Linked DNA regions of Homo sapiens: region 1 is linked to region 2. Evidence: fine-mapped expression QTL. A gene starts in region 2. The other region holds a variant in brackets. All regions are shown on one strand. Distances are between the middles of the regions. Region 1 overlaps CRIM1 (cysteine rich transmembrane BMP regulator 1). Region 2 holds the start of FEZ2 (fasciculation and elongation protein zeta 2).

Region 1 (8,340 bases), 51 kb before region 2:
TTTTTTTTTTTTAAAAAGACCTGATATTTGAGATAAATAATATTCTTCTGTTTGTTTTATGTTGTAGTATAATACCTATCTGATCAAACTGGATAATGTAAATATATTTACTGAAGATCAGCTTCTAATCTAAATGGTTCCAGTGGTAACATAATGGACATCTGAGACTTATACTCATGAGGTCTACCTACAGTCCATTCCCATTTAGGGGAAGAGAAAGGAGAGGAAATGGCCAAGAAGTCCATAAGAAGTGGACAGTGCTTTAACTTTTTCAAGTTTTGCTAACATATTTTATGTAAGTTATTCAATACCCCCATATTAAAGAGCAGCAGCTATTAAACACCAACATTTATTAGCTGCTGGAAAGTAATAAATAACTTCAGCTAGTCCCCTTCAGTTTCCATAAAATTATAAAACCAACACCATTTGACGTGAAAAAGCAGTTTTTGACCCTGGTGGAGTAGAGAATTCTTTCATCTTTTAAATGTTATAAGACATGTTTCTCCTCACTGCAAAGCTCGTGATTCTCTAGCATGAGTGATGAATGATGTAAATGGCAGAAACTGCATCTTTCATGTCCCAGGAAATGTGGTCTTGAATTGAGTGCACCATTTGGATTGAGAATACAAAAGCCAACAATACAGCAGCTTCATCATCTCTTAGGAAAAATGTTCCCTTCTTTTAGAAATGTATGTCCCAGAACCAACCAATATACCCATTGAGAAGACAAACCATCGAGGAGAGGTTGACCTGGAGGTTCCCCTGTGGCCCACGCCTAGTGAAAATGATATCGTCCATCTCCCTAGAGGTAAGCATTGAAGGCAGCTGAGATCTGCTAGTTTTCTATGTGGTCTACTTAGGTGTTTTCTAATTTTTAAAATTTCCTATGAGTAACTTTTAAAATGACTTGCTGAAGTAAATTCAAATAACTATTCCCGGGCAGACCTGCTTGGCTGAAACATATTTACACCACACATTGATAAAATAAGTCAGCAGGTAACTGGATTAAATGCCTCCTTCCTGGCCCTCTGTGCTCAGAGACTTTGTGATGACGGAAATAAATGGAAATAAATATGTTCCTAGTCATAAGAGCCTGGTATCTGGAACTTCTAAGCCATCTCTCAAACGTATGTATATATAAACTTTGTAAGGAGAGTAATCATGAATTAGTCACTGTCTCTTGTAGATTCCGCACTGAGCATTTGTACATTAGGTTACCCTCTACTTCTGGGCAGTTTTCACTTCATGTGAGCTAAACTTATCACCTATGTTGATTTTTCTAGTCACCAGGTTTACTCCATGCCTTTTTATCTTGCTCTATCCTTTCAGTCTGTGCGTAATAAAGATGTTATTTTGTCTCCCAATAGCTGTCACTATTTCCTTTTCTATAAAAGTAGACCTCTTCTTGATCAGTAGTATAAACTTGCTCTTAGCCGTGACTCAGTACTGCCTCCTGTGTCCTCCAACCATATTTTCCAAATCATTGCTATATAACTTATATTTCTTTTGGAAGAAGCAATATTCATTGCTTGAGAGAGATTAATTGTCTGTTACTCTAGATATTCTAAACGTTATGCTTGGATCAAACCAGATGACCAGAAAGTCAAATTCCTGGACCTAGTGTTTTTGGCTCTCTGTATAATTGTTCTGAGTGTGCTTTAGCATTATGCTTACATTCATTCAGTCAGTAAATATTAGTGCCTGCTGTATGCCAGACCCTGTTCTAGAGGCTAGACTTCAACATACTGTAAGTACGACTATTCTTATGACTGAAGACCTGTGCATTGCATAGTATCTATGTTATAAAGCCCCTAAAGAGAAATTTTCTCATGCATCAATAGCAAGAAAATGTATGCTTCTCCTAGGCAACTGATTTGTTTTAACCTAAAAGACATTGTGAATCGTATTAAAGACTGATAGTTGTTTCCGTTTTTGGCTTTGGCTGCTACAAAGCTCAAAGCTAACTTTGATGGCTTGGTTTTAGCACAGAAACAGAACTGGAAGACTGAATTTTGTAAACAGACCTCACTTGCAGCTTCATTTTTCTTTCACCAAGACCTTCCTTAATTTATATCTTATTCTTCTTGTATGACACATATTCCTAAAACTGCTTTCTATTTGATTTGGAATATGGGAAAGTAAAATTCATTCTTTTATTCATTGTATATTTAAAATCTGAATTCATCAATAAAATGTTACTCTTTGACATTTTTCTTGATGCTGGAAAATATGTTTCTATAAAGTTTTATTGCCATCTGCACTGGCTAAAATGATTAGGAATGTTTTCTACCTCCCATTCCTCCCTGCTCCCACCACCCCTCCAGAACACACACAGAAGCATATCATTTAAAATCTGAGTTTTAAACCACAGTGTTACATACCACAAAGCTCTGTCACTTCATGAGCTGAATTTCCAGAACAATTTAGGAGTAACTCCTTTTGATACTGTGTGTCATGTGTCTTTAACTAAATTGATTTTTAATGCATTTAGAAAACCTGACTACAATGATTTATTTGAAACAAAACAGAATATAAAAATAAGGAAACTTTAGGGAGTGCCCCCTATTGGTATGTGTTTAACCTTATTTTTGTCTGCAACATTCATTGTAAGAGAGATATTTTAAAAGAACATAAAGGTCATCATTCATAAGTGCAAAACTAAATGTAGTCACCTATGCGATATAATTCATTAAGGCAGAAAAATGATCTAATAGGCCTAAGCAAGATTTTCAACAAGTTTATGAAAAGTAAGACAATATTGCTTAGAGTTCAGTGAACCAGAGTATCAACCAAAAGACCAACTTCCTGATTGATTAGTTTTAATCTAATTAGTCTTAGCTATTAACACTAATTAATTAATAGTAAAAGAACATACTTTGTTCTAGTCTCCTGTTTGCCAATAAATCAGCTAATGTTTCTCCTTCGAAATCTGAGAAGACCATGTATGTTAACAGTAATCAAAATATTTTCATGGTCTAATTCACTTTTTCAAAATCTACCTAAGCACCTTCTTATTTCCTTGATTAGCTAGAGCCGGCATCATCTTACCCAATTATTAAGATTCTCACTCTGATTTTTTTTTTTTTTTTTTTTTTTTTTTAACATTCATCCCTAAGCGCTCTGCTCTCTACTAAGAGCTCTTTGGATCAACATTAGATTTTAATCACATTTTTAGCCTCAAAAAACTGGGAAGCAATAAAACCAAGTTGCTGATCTCTATTTGCAATGTCATTAAAATAATCCTTAACAATTCTGGTTTAGGTAATAAATGCTTATAATTTTTTTTCTCCTAGATATGGGTCACCTCCAGGTAGATTACAGAGATAACAGGCTGCACCCAAGTGAAGATTCTTCACTGGACTCCATTGCCTCAGTTGTGGTTCCCATAATTATATGCCTCTCTATTATAATAGCATTCCTATTCATCAATCAGAAGAAACAGTGGATACCACTGCTTTGCTGGTATCGAACACCAACTAAGGTACTGTCTTGCAAAAGTTAGTCTCTTGAATGATGAATCTAGGAAAACTTACACTCATATTGAAATTGCTTGAAACCTTGTGTCTTAACCAGTGAAGTTTTTACTTTGCTCTTCATAGCCTCAAATCCATACCAGGCTATAGTATGAATCAAATACATAGTACTTGCCCAGGGCTGGACTGATCACAAGGTGAATTATCCATTATCCATTGGTTAATGAAGCCTAACCTTACATGGATCCAGTTTTCTCGATGTACTCTGAAGTTTTCAAATGAACAAATACTCCTGGATTTATTCCTAAATCATTGTTTATATTAGACATTAAAACGTGATCACCTGGCATTTCTTAGTCATCAGTCAACTTAGAATTGGGAGAGAAAAAAAGTCCCAAAGGGATGGAGATAATACTCAGGAGAGGGCTGGAAGATCATGAGGGTATACAAAAGGCAAAAGGAACAGGTCAGTGCACCAAAGGCAAGCACCAAGTGGAAAGGTCGCAAAAGATGAAGAGGTGGTGGAAAGTAATAGTAGACAAGGTAGGGAGAGGCAGATTTCACACTAAGGGAGAAAAGATGTATGTTTGTTTTCAGTACAAACATAAAGGGCCTCTAAATCTGCCTATTTTGAAAGACAAGAAAAAACTGTATTAATTAAGGGAAATAAATCATAATCCCTTCCAACTCTAATTCTACCTTTTGCCTTGAGTTGGTTTATTTTAATCATAAACCTTAAGAATTGGAAACAGCCTGAACAATTATGTAATGTAATTTACCATCTGGTTAACCCTTCCATGTAAAAATTCTGTCCTGCGGTTATCCTGCCTCCGATTTTTCTTTGAACAAATGTACATTGGGCACAGCCTCTGTGCTGGGTCAGGATACAGTTGCCAGTGTCCAAAGCTGGGAAACAGACCCGCTCATAAAGTGTATGGAGTGACTAGCAACACACAGGCTGGCCCAGCCTATGATAGTGTTGTACAGTCTGAGTGGTTAGAAGTCATC[C/G]CTTTGTTTTTAAAATCTGCCTACCTTCCACTCATTCTTCAGCCCCCTTGAAACACAAGGTCTGCACTTCAAGGATTTGAAATCATTTCACCAGTCTTTTTTTTTTTTTTTTCAGTTCCTTCATCTCCCTATTTGACAGTTTCTTGACATTTCACCTTAAAATACAGTTTGTCAGTGTCCCTCATAAAAGTATAGTTGGTACTAGAACAAGATGTGATAATCTGCATACAGGCTATCAATCAATGAATTGTGAAACTGTTATCTCACCTGAGTTAGGTACTAAATTTCTGTTCATTTGAGATAATGTAAAGCAACTAATTTTTTGTGGTTTTATTCCTCCTCTCATTAAATAGCCTTCTTCCTTAAATAATCAGCTAGTATCTGTGGACTGCAAGAAAGGAACCAGAGTCCAGGTGGACAGTTCCCAGAGAATGCTAAGAATTGCAGAACCAGATGCAAGATTCAGTGGCTTCTACAGCATGCAAAAACAGAACCATCTACAGGCAGACAATTTCTACCAAACAGTGTGAAGAAAGGCAACTAGGATGAGGTTTCAAAAGACGGAAGACGACTAAATCTGCTCTAAAAAGTAAACTAGAATTTGTGCACTTGCTTAGTGGATTGTATTGGATTGTGACTTGATGTACAGCGCTAAGACCTTACTGGGATGGGCTCTGTCTACAGCAATGTGCAGAACAAGCATTCCCACTTTTCCTCAAGATAACTGACCAAGTGTTTTCTTAGAACCAAAGTTTTTAAAGTTGCTAAGATATATTTGCCTGTAAGATAGCTGTAGAGATATTTGGGGTGGGGACAGTGAGTTTGGATGGGGAAATGGGTGGGAGGGTGGTGTTGGGAAGAAAAATTGGTCAGCTTGGCTCGGGGAGAAACCTGGTAACATAAAAGCAGTTCAGTGGCCCAGAGGTTATTTTTTTCCTATTGCTCTGAAGACTGCACTGGTTGCTGCAAAGCTCAGGCCTGAATGAGCAGGAAACAAAAAAGGCCTTGCGACCCAGCTGCCATAACCACCTTAGAACTACCAGACGAGCACATCAGAACCCTTTGACAGCCATCCCAGGTCTAAAGCCACAAGTTTCTTTTCTATACAGTCACAACTGCAGTAGGCAGTGAGGAAGCCAGAGAAATGCGATAGCGGCATTTCTCTAAAGCGGGTTATTAAGGATATATACAGTTACACTTTTTGCTGCTTTTATTTTCTTCCAAGCCAATCAATCAGCCAGTTCCTAGCAGAGTCAGCACATGAACAAGATCTAAGTCATTTCTTGATGTGAGCACTGGAGCTTTTTTTTTTTTACAACGTGACAGGAAGAGGAGGGAGAGGGTGACGAACACCAGGCATTTCCAGGGGCTATATTTCACTGTTTGTTGTTGCTTTGTTCTGTTATATTGTTGGTTGTTCATAGTTTTTGTTGAAGCTCTAGCTTAAGAAGAAACTTTTTTTAAAAAGACTGTTTGGGGATTCTTTTTCCTTATTATATACTGATTCTACAAAATAGAAACTACTTCATTTTAATTGTATATTATTCAAGCACCTTTGTTGAAGCTCAAAAAAAATGATGCCTCTTTAAACTTTAGCAATTATAGGAGTATTTATGTAACTATCTTATGCTTCAAAAAACAAAAGTATTTGTGTGCATGTGTATATAATATATATATATACATATATATTTATACACATACAATTTATGTTTTCCTGTTGAATGTATTTTTATGAGATTTTAACCAGAACAAAGGCAGATAAACAGGCATTCCATAGCAGTGCTTTTGATCACTTACAAATTTTTTGAATAACACAAAATCTCATTCTACCTGCAGTTTAATTGGAAAGATGTGTGTGTGAGAGTATGTATGTGTGTGTGTGTGTGTGTGTGTGTGCGCGCGCACGCACGCCTTGAGCAGTCAGCATTGCACCTGCTATGGAGAAGGGTATTCCTTTATTAAAATCTTCCTCATTTGGATTTGCTTTCAGTTGGTTTTCAATTTGCTCACTGGCCAGAGACATTGATGGCAGTTCTTATCTGCATCACTAATCAGCTCCTGGATTTTTTTTTTTTTTTTTTCAAACAATGGTTTGAAACAACTACTGGAATATTGTCCACAATAAGCTGGAAGTTTGTTGTAGTATGCCTCAAATATAACTGACTGTATACTATAGTGGTAACTTTTCAAACAGCCCTTAGCACTTTTATACTAATTAACCCATTTGTGCATTGAGTTTTCTTTTAAAAATGCTTGTTGTGAAAGACACAGATACCCAGTATGCTTAACGTGAAAAGAAAATGTGTTCTGTTTTGTAAAGGAACTTTCAAGTATTGTTGTAAATACTTGGACAGAGGTTGCTGAACTTTAAAAAAAATTAATTTATTATTATAATGACCTAATTTATTAATCTGAAGATTAACCATTTTTTTGTCTTAGAATATCAAAAAGAAAAAGAAAAAGGTGTTCTAGCTGTTTGCATCAAAGGAAAAAAAGATTTATTATCAAGGGGCAATATTTTTATCTTTTCCAAAATAAATTTGTTAATGATACATTACAAAAATAGATTGACATCAGCCTGATTAGTATAAATTTTGTTGGTAATTAATCCATTCCTGGCATAAAAAGTCTTTATCAAAAAAAATTGTAGATGCTTGCTTTTTGTTTTTTCAATCATGGCCATATTATGAAAATACTAACAGGATATAGGACAAGGTGTAAATTTTTTTATTATTATTTTAAAGATATGATTTATCCTGAGTGCTGTATCTATTACTCTTTTACTTTGGTTCCTGTTGTGCTCTTGTAAAAGAAAAATATAATTTCCTGAAGAATAAAATAGATATATGGCACTTGGAGTGCATCATAGTTCTACAGTTTGTTTTTGTTTTCTTCAAAAAAGCTGTAAGAGAATTATCTGCAACTTGATTCTTGGCAGGAAATAAACATTTTGAGTTGAAATCACACAGTGTAACTTGCAAAAAGATTCCATCTCTGAGATCCGAAAGACTTTTAAGGTTATCAGTCCAATGAACCCCTGGTGTAACAAGAAGTCCCGTGCTTTTGTCATTAGGCGGGTCTTTCCCAAGGTATCCTTGCAAAAAGAAAAGTGTCTCCCAGAGTACAGAGAATAGCGATGCTGTTTTTAGGGAGACAAGAAACCTACCTGCTGTCAGAAACGTGCTCATAGCTGGTATCAAAATTAACTTGCTACGCACAGGAGGACTGTGGTGGGAAATCCTACAGTGGTTCGATGCTGAAGAAGAAAGACTTTACCGAGCACGATCAGGGGAAGCCTAACTGCAAAGAGACTTTTTGAGCTGACAGGAAAAAATAAATAGGTATATTTTCATACATTTTAGAAGCATCAATTTAAGAATGAGCTATAAACAGACCAATGTTGAATCTCCTTTAAAAAAATATATCCCCCTAAGGACTTTCTACTATATCATATACCCTTTAAAGCTACATTTCTTCAGTACAAGGCGTCATTTTTACAAATTCAAATTAATTTAAATTATTAATATTACTGTGTAAGTACATGTATCTGGGGAAAGGGCCAGTAAGTTCCAAATAAGAACATTAATAAAACAAGGAAACCATCTCGAGTTTCTCATACCCCTAGAGATGATGGCTGAAATGCCAAGCAGGCATTAAACTTCAAACCGCGCCCCTGCCTTTGCAGTCATGGTGTCTCAGTTGCTGAGTGGAGTGAGGAATATGTTAGCCCTGTTTGTTTTGCTCACAGGTGTTTAAGTGGAATTGTGAAAGCCGCCTGTAGCAGGTCCTATATAGACTCTTAATTCATTCATGTCGTCTATGGGAGGGGTCTGCATGGCTGTTTTTGAAATGTCTCACA
Region 2 (8,294 bases):
AAGACATACCCGAGACTGGGAAGAAAACGAGGTTTAATTGGACTTACAGTTCCACATGGCTGGGGAGGCCTCAGAATCATGGCAGGAGGCAAAAGGCACTTCTTACATGGCGGCAGCAAGGGAAAATGAGGAAGGAGCAAAAGCGGAAACCCCTGATAAGCCCATCAGATCTTGTAAGACTTATTCACTATCATGAGAATAGCATAGGAAAGACCAGCCCCCATGATTCAATTACCTCCCCCTGGATCCCTCCCACAACACGTGGGAATTCTGGGAGATACAATTCAAGTTGAGATTTGGGTGGGGACACAGCCAAACCGTATCACTGACTATAGACCTAATCCTGGCAGGAATTTAAGCAGGATACACTAGCAGGTGAAGACAGTCCAGAATTTGAGGAGTTTGCTTTGTCTGCTGATTTGCTCCTTCTTAAACAAGGCTATAAGAAAAAGGCAAATGGGATGGAATATTTCACTTAGAAGTGCCTGTCAGTGAGTTTGATCTTCCAAGAAAATGAAAGCCAACTAACAGTCTCCACCAAGGTCAAAACAATGGTAGTTGGAAGGACACAGAGGCAACTCTAGTGAAAGATTTCTAGAATTCTGCAGTCAAGACATATGAACTGCCTTCATCTTTATCACCAAGTATTACAACCAGTCGTAAACAACGGTCAGGACAGCTCTTTTGCAAGGAGGTCAAAGTCCTGCCAACATCGAATCCTGCAGAATACTCTTATAAGTAAAACCTCAGTACGTAAATACAATCCATATTTAACCAAAACAAAAGCTGAGGCTCAGAGAAGTTAAATGAAGTGCCAAGGGTCGGGGAGGGCTTTGGGGTGATTCAAGCACATTACATTTACGGTGTACTTTATTTCTATTATTACACTGTCATATATCATGAAATAATTTTACAACTCACCATAACGTAGAATCAATGGGAGCCCTGAGCTTGTTTTCCTGCAACTAGATGGTCCTATCTGGGGGAGAGGGGAAACAGTGACAGATCATCAAGCATTAGATTCTCATAAGGTGTCTGCAAACTAGAACCCTCACTTGTGCAGTTCACAATAGGGTTCACGCTCCTATGAGAATCTAATGCCGTGGCTGATCTGACAGGAGGTGGCTCAGGTGGTAATGCAAGCAATGGGGAGGAGCTGTAAATACAGATGAGGCTTTGCTCACTCACTCAGCCACTCACCTCCTGTAGTGTGGCCCAGTTCCAGTACCGGTCTGTGGACCAGGGGTTGGGGACCCCTTGACCTAAAGCACAGCAATATCTGAGTAAAACAATTATCAATTATATCTAGTGAAAAGGGAACTGGAACAGACTATCAAGCAATGATGAGTATGTTTTTGCAATATAAAAGGGACAATGCCAGTGATGACCAGCTCCCAACTCCCGGAAAAAAAGAGATTTCATATGCATTCCCAAGTCAAGAGACATGCATTACCACCAACATATCATCTACTAAATACCATTAACAAGAGCGACAAAATATTTTTAAGCAAAGGCTAAAATAACCTACTCTCCTGACGGTCTAAGTGAAACAAAAACTCTTAACGATCTACGTACAATCCTCTAATTGATTTAAGTCAGCTACTCTTGAAAAACCCAAATACATAATACATCTACACTAATTTTTAAATCCAGAATGTGTCCTGGGTTTAGTGATTCAGAGTATCTAAATCTACATATACATAAAATTATCTTCTCTTTGGGAACAGGCTTCCAAAAATGTCATCTTTTGCTACTGACGGCATGCATGTGTGTATAAAATCCAATTATAAGTGTTTCCCTTCTCTACACCTGGGCAGAACACTGTACTGAGGAACCAATAAAAGGAGATGGTCTCCAAACACAGGTGGGCCTGCACCACTGCTCAGCCATGTTTACAGGCCCCACTCCCAAGGCTGTCTTTACAAGCTTCCTACCTTATTCCTGATAAATCTGTTTGTTTCACAAAGGAAAGGAGACAATCAGGCTGGAAACTCCTTTCCGTGCCCGTGACTCCTGTCCTGTCTCTCAAAAATTCTTCCCTAACCTCTAAGAGTCTCTCCATCCCATCAATGCTCTGAAAATCCATTCCTTCCCATGTCCTCATTTTTGAGACAAAGTCTCGCTCTGACACCCAGGCTGGAGTGCAGTTGTGCGATGATGGCTCACTGCAACCTTCGCCTCCAGGACTCAAGCAATCCTGCCATCTCAGCCTCCGGGCAGCTGGGTCCGTGGGACCACGGGCATGCGCCACCGGACTTCACTAATTTTTTTTTAATTTTTTTGTAAAGACCAGATTTCACGATATTGCCCAGTCTGGTCTCGAACTGCTGGAAGCAAGCCATCCTCCCACCACAGCCTCTCAAAGTGCTGGGATCACAGGTGTGAGCCACCGCGCCCAATCTTATTCCACTCATTTTACCTTCAGCCTCTCCGGAGGCTCCTCTCCCCCTATATACACAACATGCTCAAGTCCCTTTACTCTCACCATTCCTATTTACCATCTTTTGGGGGTAAAACCATGGTACCTAATTACAACTCTTACTTAACCAAATTATAATTGCGGCTCAGGTGGTTTAAAAAGTGCCCTCAGGAACTCTGCGCCTCACCTCTCCCAGCTGTGATAAAACCCCGTGAACCTCCTATCATTGCTCTTAGGTGATTCTGTAATTATTAATATTACTTGTGTATGCCTTGGTCTCCCCACCAGACCATGCGATCGTTACCATCAGTAAGCAGGGCCCTTCGTTTTCGTCTCTGTGGCGGCTCGCACTCTACCAGGGCTCCCGGGTGGGTCCCACAGATTCCTGTGCCCTAAATGCTGCCTCGCACGTTGGTACTTATGCACAGGCAATATACTCCACCTAGAACGTTAGACTTTTTTCCACCTGCCAGGCACACTCCCACTCATCAGTCAGATCTCGTTTGCACATTTCTTTATAAAGTCGTTCCTTACTCTCCCCAAGACACACGCTTTTAAGTCTCTCACATTTGGTACATATAACCATTGCAGCGCTAATTACATCCATACATGTATTTGTTTACAAATCTATCTCCCATCCTACGTTGTGTCCTAAGTGGGAGGGACAGTGCCCAGTCGTTTTGGTGTTCCCTGTGCGAAGCAGCGCCTGGCACTCAGCAGGTGCTTAATAAATGCGACTTGAGTGAATGAATGGCGACACACGTGCCCCAGGAGGTGCCCCAGGAGGTGCCGTCTCTAACTATGGGCTCTGCATGGGCGATTCCCTTCTAATACAAACGAGGGTTTGGTTTGCAGGAAGGAGGGCGGGAGGTACCGAGGCGGAGGTTTTCAGGGCTCGTGGCGGCGGGGGGCAGGGGATTTAAATTGCTGGGCGAGCCGAGGCCGACGGCCGGAGGAAGGAGGCGAGAGGGCGGGGACTCCCGCGTCCGGGCGGAAGGAGGGCGCAGGGAGGAGCTGCGGCCGTAGGGCTGCCGGTCGGGCGAGGGGTAGGGGAGGCTCCCGCCCACTCCCGGCCGGGGCCCCGCACTCACTCGTCCCCCTGCAGGAGGCTGCGCTCCGTGATGGGCCGCACGGCCGTCCTCGGGGGCTCGGCGCCCGGATCCGAGGGGCGGAAGCACAGGCTCAGCTTCTCCTCCAAGCTGCAGGCCGGGGCCGGGAAACCGTCGGCGCCCCCACCCGCCTCGGCCCCCGCCTCCGCCCCAGGCTCGGGGCTCGCGTTACAGTTCTCCTGGTCCAGGAGGCTCCGGGCCGGCTCCTGGAACTCATAGAAATCCTGCCAGTCCCCGTCCGCCGCCATCGCCGCCCGGAGCAGTCGCGCGCCCCGCCCAGGCCGGCCCAGCCCGCCCAGCCCGGCCCCGCCCCGGCCCGAAGCCCCGCCCCCGCCCGCTACCGTGCTGACAGATCCCAGGCTGTCCCAACCCTGGGTCTCCGGTGGCCTGAGTCTTCCTGGAGTTGAACGCGGTGCTACTAGAAAGCCAAGACCTTAACTGCCTTGAGTCACTTCCTATATTCTCTATCATTTAGGAATAACTTCCCTGTTAGCTTCCCTTATTAGCAACTTGGCCTAAATGTGGCTAAAATAAAGGACTTCTTTAAACTTACGACCTAATATCAGATTACGCCCCGAAAGTCGTTTTCCCCAAGGTAACCTGCTCCTTTCCTAACTTGCCAACCAGAATAACAGCCAGAGTCAATGGGAAATGTTTAGGTGGTACCGAAGTTCATTCCTCAAATATTTTACCTCTCACGTGCAAAGCACTGGCTAGATCCTGCAGAACATACAAAGATAATTATGCCAGTTAACATTTGCAAAGCACTTAGAGCAATGCCTAATAGTAGATACCCTATGTGTATGTTATAACTAATACATGGGTGCCCCATACACAGGGCTTACAATGTCGGAGTGATAAGAGTAACAAGAAATTGTTTAGACCTCATAAAAACTAAGTGTGATTGGGCGGTTCAGTTTTGCAAGATGAAAAGAGTTATGGAGATGGATGGTGGTGATGGTTCCACGACAGTGTTAATGTGCTGAATGCCACTGATCTATACACTTACAGATGGTTAAGATAGTAATTTTATGTTTATTTTACTACAATACAAAAAAATTGGAGTAGGCCAGGCGAGGTGGCTCACATCTATAATCCCAGCACTTTGGCAGGCCCAGGTGGACGGATCGCTTGAGGTCAGGAGTTCAAGACCAACCTGGCCAACATGGTAAAACCCCGTCTCTACTAAAAATACAAAATCTAGCTGTCAGGCCTCTGAGCCCAAGCCAAGCCATCGCATCCCGTGACTTGCACATATACACCCAGATGGCCTGAAGTAACTGAAGATCCACAAAAGAAGTAAAAATAGCCTTAAGGATGACATTCCACCATTGTGATTTGTTCCTGCCCCACCCTAACTGATCAATGTACTTTGTAATCTCCCCCACCCTTAAGAAGTTTCTTTGTAATTCTCCCCACCCTTGAGAATGTACTTTGTGAGATCCACCCCTGCCCGCAAAACATTGCTCTTAACTTCACCGCCTGACCCAAAACCTGTAAGAACTAATGATAATCCATCTCCCTTCGCTGACTCTCTTTTCGGACTCAGCCCGCCTGCATCCAGGTGAAATAAACAGCCGTGTTGCTCACACAAAGCCTGTTTGGTGGTCTCTTCACACGGACGCACATGAAATTTGGTGCCGTGACTCGGATCGGGGGACCTCCCTTGGGAGATCAATCCCCCTGTCCTCCTGCTCTTTGCTCCATGAGAAAGATCCACCTACGACCTCAGGTCCTCAGACCGACCAGCCCAAAAAACATCTCACCAATTTCAAATCCAGTAAGCGGCCTCTTTTTACTGTCTTCTCCAGCTTCCCTCACTATCCCTCAACCTCTTTCTCCTTTCAATCTTGGCGCCGCACTTCAATCTCTCCCTTCTCTTAATTTCAGTTCCTTTCATTTTCTGGTAGAGACAAGGGAGACACGTTTTATCCGTGGACCCAAAACTCCGGCGCCGGTCACGGGCTGGGAAGGCAGCCTTCCCTTGGTGTTTAATCATTGCAGGGACGCCTCTGATTATTCACCCACGTTTCAAAGGTGTCAGACCACGCAGGGACGCCTGCCTTGGTCCTTCACCCTTAGCGGCAAGTCCCGCTTTTCTGAGGAAGGGGCGAGTACCCCAACCCCTTCTCTCCTTGTCTCTACCCCTTCTGTGATTTTTCTGGGGCAGGGGCAAGAACCCCTCAACCCCTTCTCCTTCACCCTTAGCGGCAAGTCCCGCTTTTCTAGGTGGCAAGAACCCCCAATCCCTTATTTCCACACCCCAATCTCTTATCTCTGTGCCCCAATCCCTTATTTCCGTGCCCCAACCCCCCTTCCCGCTTTTCTGGAGGGTAACAACCCCGAACCCCTTCCCTCCATGTCTCTACGCTCTCTTTTCTCTGGGTTTACCTCCTTCACTATGGGCAACCTTCCATCCTCCATTCCTCCTCCTTCTCGCTTAGCCTGTCCTCAAGAACTTAAAACCTCTTCAACTCACACCTGACCTAAAACCTAAATGCATTATTTTCTTCTGCAACACCACTTGGCCCCAATACAAACTTGACAATGGCTCTAAATGGCCAGAAAAGGGCACTTTCGATTTCTCCATCCTACAAGACCTAAATAATTTTTGTAGAAAAATGGGCAAATGGTCTGAGGTGCCTTACGTCCAGGCATTTTTCACACTTCACTCCCTCCCTAGCCTCTGTTCCCAATGCGATTCCTCCCAGATCCTCCTTTCCCTCCTGCCTATCCCCTCAGTCCCAACCCCAAGCGTCGCTGAGTTTTTCCAGTCTTCCTTTTCTACAGACCCATCTGACCTTTCCCCTCCTCCCCAGGCTGCTCGTCGCCAGGCCGAGCTAAGTCCCAATTCTTCCTCAGCCCCAACTCCTCCACCCTATAATCCTTCTATCACCTCCCCTCCTCACACCTGGTCTGGCTTACAGTTTAGTTCCGCGACTAGCTCTTCCCCACCTGCCCAGCAATTTACTCTTAAAAAGATGGCTAGAGCTAAAGGCATAGTCAAGGTTAATGCTCCTTTTTCTTTATCCCAAATCAGATAGCATTTAGGCTCTTTTTCATCAAATATAAAAATCCAGCCCAGTTCATGGCTCGTTTGGCAGCAACTCTGAGACGCTTTACAGCCCTAGACCCTAAAAGGTCAAAAGGCCGTCTTATTCTCAATATACATTTTATTACCCAATCTGCTCCCAACATTAAATAAAACTCCAAAAATTAGAATCTGGCACTCAAACCCCACAACAGGACTTAATTAACCTCACCTTCAAGGTGTACGATAATAGAATAAAGTTGCAATTCCTTGCCTCCACTGTGAGACAAACCCCAGCCACATCTCCAGCACACAAGAACTTCCAAACGCCCGAACCGCAGCGGCCAGGGGTTCCTCCAGAACCTCCTCCCCCAGGAGCTTACTACAAGTGCCAGAAATCTGGCCACCAGGCCAAGGAATGCCCACAGCCCAGGATTCCTCCTAAGCCGTGTCCCATCTGTGCGGGACCCCACTGAAAAATCGGACTGTTCAACTCACCTGGTAGCCACTTCCAGAGCCCCTGGAACTCTGGCCCAAGGCTCTCTGACTCCTTCCCAGATCTTCTCAGCTTAGCGGCTGAAGACTGACACTGCCCAATCGCCTCGGAAGCCCCCTAGACCATCACGGATGCCAAGCTTCGGGTAACTCTCACAGTGGAGGTTAAGTCCGTCCCTTCTTAATCAATACGGAGGCTACCTGCTCCACATTACCTTCTTTTCAAGGGCCTGTTTCCCTTGCTTCCATAACTGTTGTGGGTATTGACGGCCAGGCTTCTAAACCTCTTAAAACTCCCCAACTCTCGTGCCAACTTGGACAACACTCTTTTATGCACTCTTTGTTAGTTATCCCCACCTGCCCAGTTCCCTTATTAGGCCGAGATATTTTAACCAAATTATCTGCTTCCCTGACTATTCCTGGACTACAGCCACATCTCATTGCCGCCCTTCTCCCCAACCCAAAGCCTCCTTCGTGTCTTCCTCTCATATCCCCCCACCTTAACCCACAAGTATGGGACATCTCTACTCCTTCCCTGGCAACCGATCTCATGCCCATTACCATCCCATTAAAATCTAATCACCTTTACCCCACTCAACGCCAATATCCCATCCCACAGCATGCTTTAAAAGGATTAAAGCCTGTTACCACTCGCCTGCTACAGCATGGGCTTCTAAAACCTATAAACTCTCCTTACCATTCCCCCATTTTACCTCTCCTAAAACGAGACAAGGCTTACAGGTTAGTTCAGAATCTGCACCTTATCAACCAAATTGTTTTGCCTATCCACCCCGTGGTGCCAAACCCATATACTCTCCTATCCTCAATACCTCCCTCTACTACCCATTATTCTGTTCTGGATCTCAAACATGCTTTCTTTACTATTCCTTTGCACGCTTCATCCCAGCCTCTCTTTGCCTTCACTTAGACTGACCCTGACACCCATTAGGCTCAGCAAATTGACTGGGCTGTACTGCCGCAAGGCTTCACAGACAGCCCCCATTACTTCAGTCAAGCCCAAATTTCATCCTCATCTGTTACCTATCTCGGCATAATTCTCGTAAAAACACACGTGCTCTCCCTGCTGATCGTGTCCGATTAATCTCCCAAACCTCAATCCCTTACTAAAGAACAACTCCTTTCCTTCCTAGGCATGGTTAGTGCGGTCAGAATTCTTACACAAGAGCCAGGACCACACCGGGTAGCCTTTCTGTCCAAACAACTTGACCTTACTGTTTTA

What was found.
Region 1: its variant is fine-mapped to the expression of FEZ2 in whole blood (INTERVAL, PIP 0.98).

Annotation. Positions count from the first base shown.
Region 1 is chr2:36,543,691-36,552,030 of GRCh38, forward strand. CRIM1 (cysteine rich transmembrane BMP regulator 1) reads left to right here. Exons shown (of 17, transcript NM_016441.3): 15 at 686-808; 16 at 3,294-3,481; 17 at 4,835-7,445. The coding sequence ends at 5,011. Among named protein-coding and RNA genes, the nearest start is that of FEZ2, 50 kb to the right of the region's middle. The variant C/G (reference allele first, on the strand shown) is at 4,482.
Region 2 is chr2:36,594,367-36,602,660 of GRCh38, forward strand. It overlaps FEZ2 (fasciculation and elongation protein zeta 2), which reads right to left and starts at 3,802. Exons shown (of 8, transcript NM_005102.3): 1 at 3,511-3,802. The coding sequence starts at 3,776. RefSeq lists enhancers at 2,943-3,870, 3,871-4,797, 5,725-6,650 and silencers at 3,251-3,610, 3,651-3,870.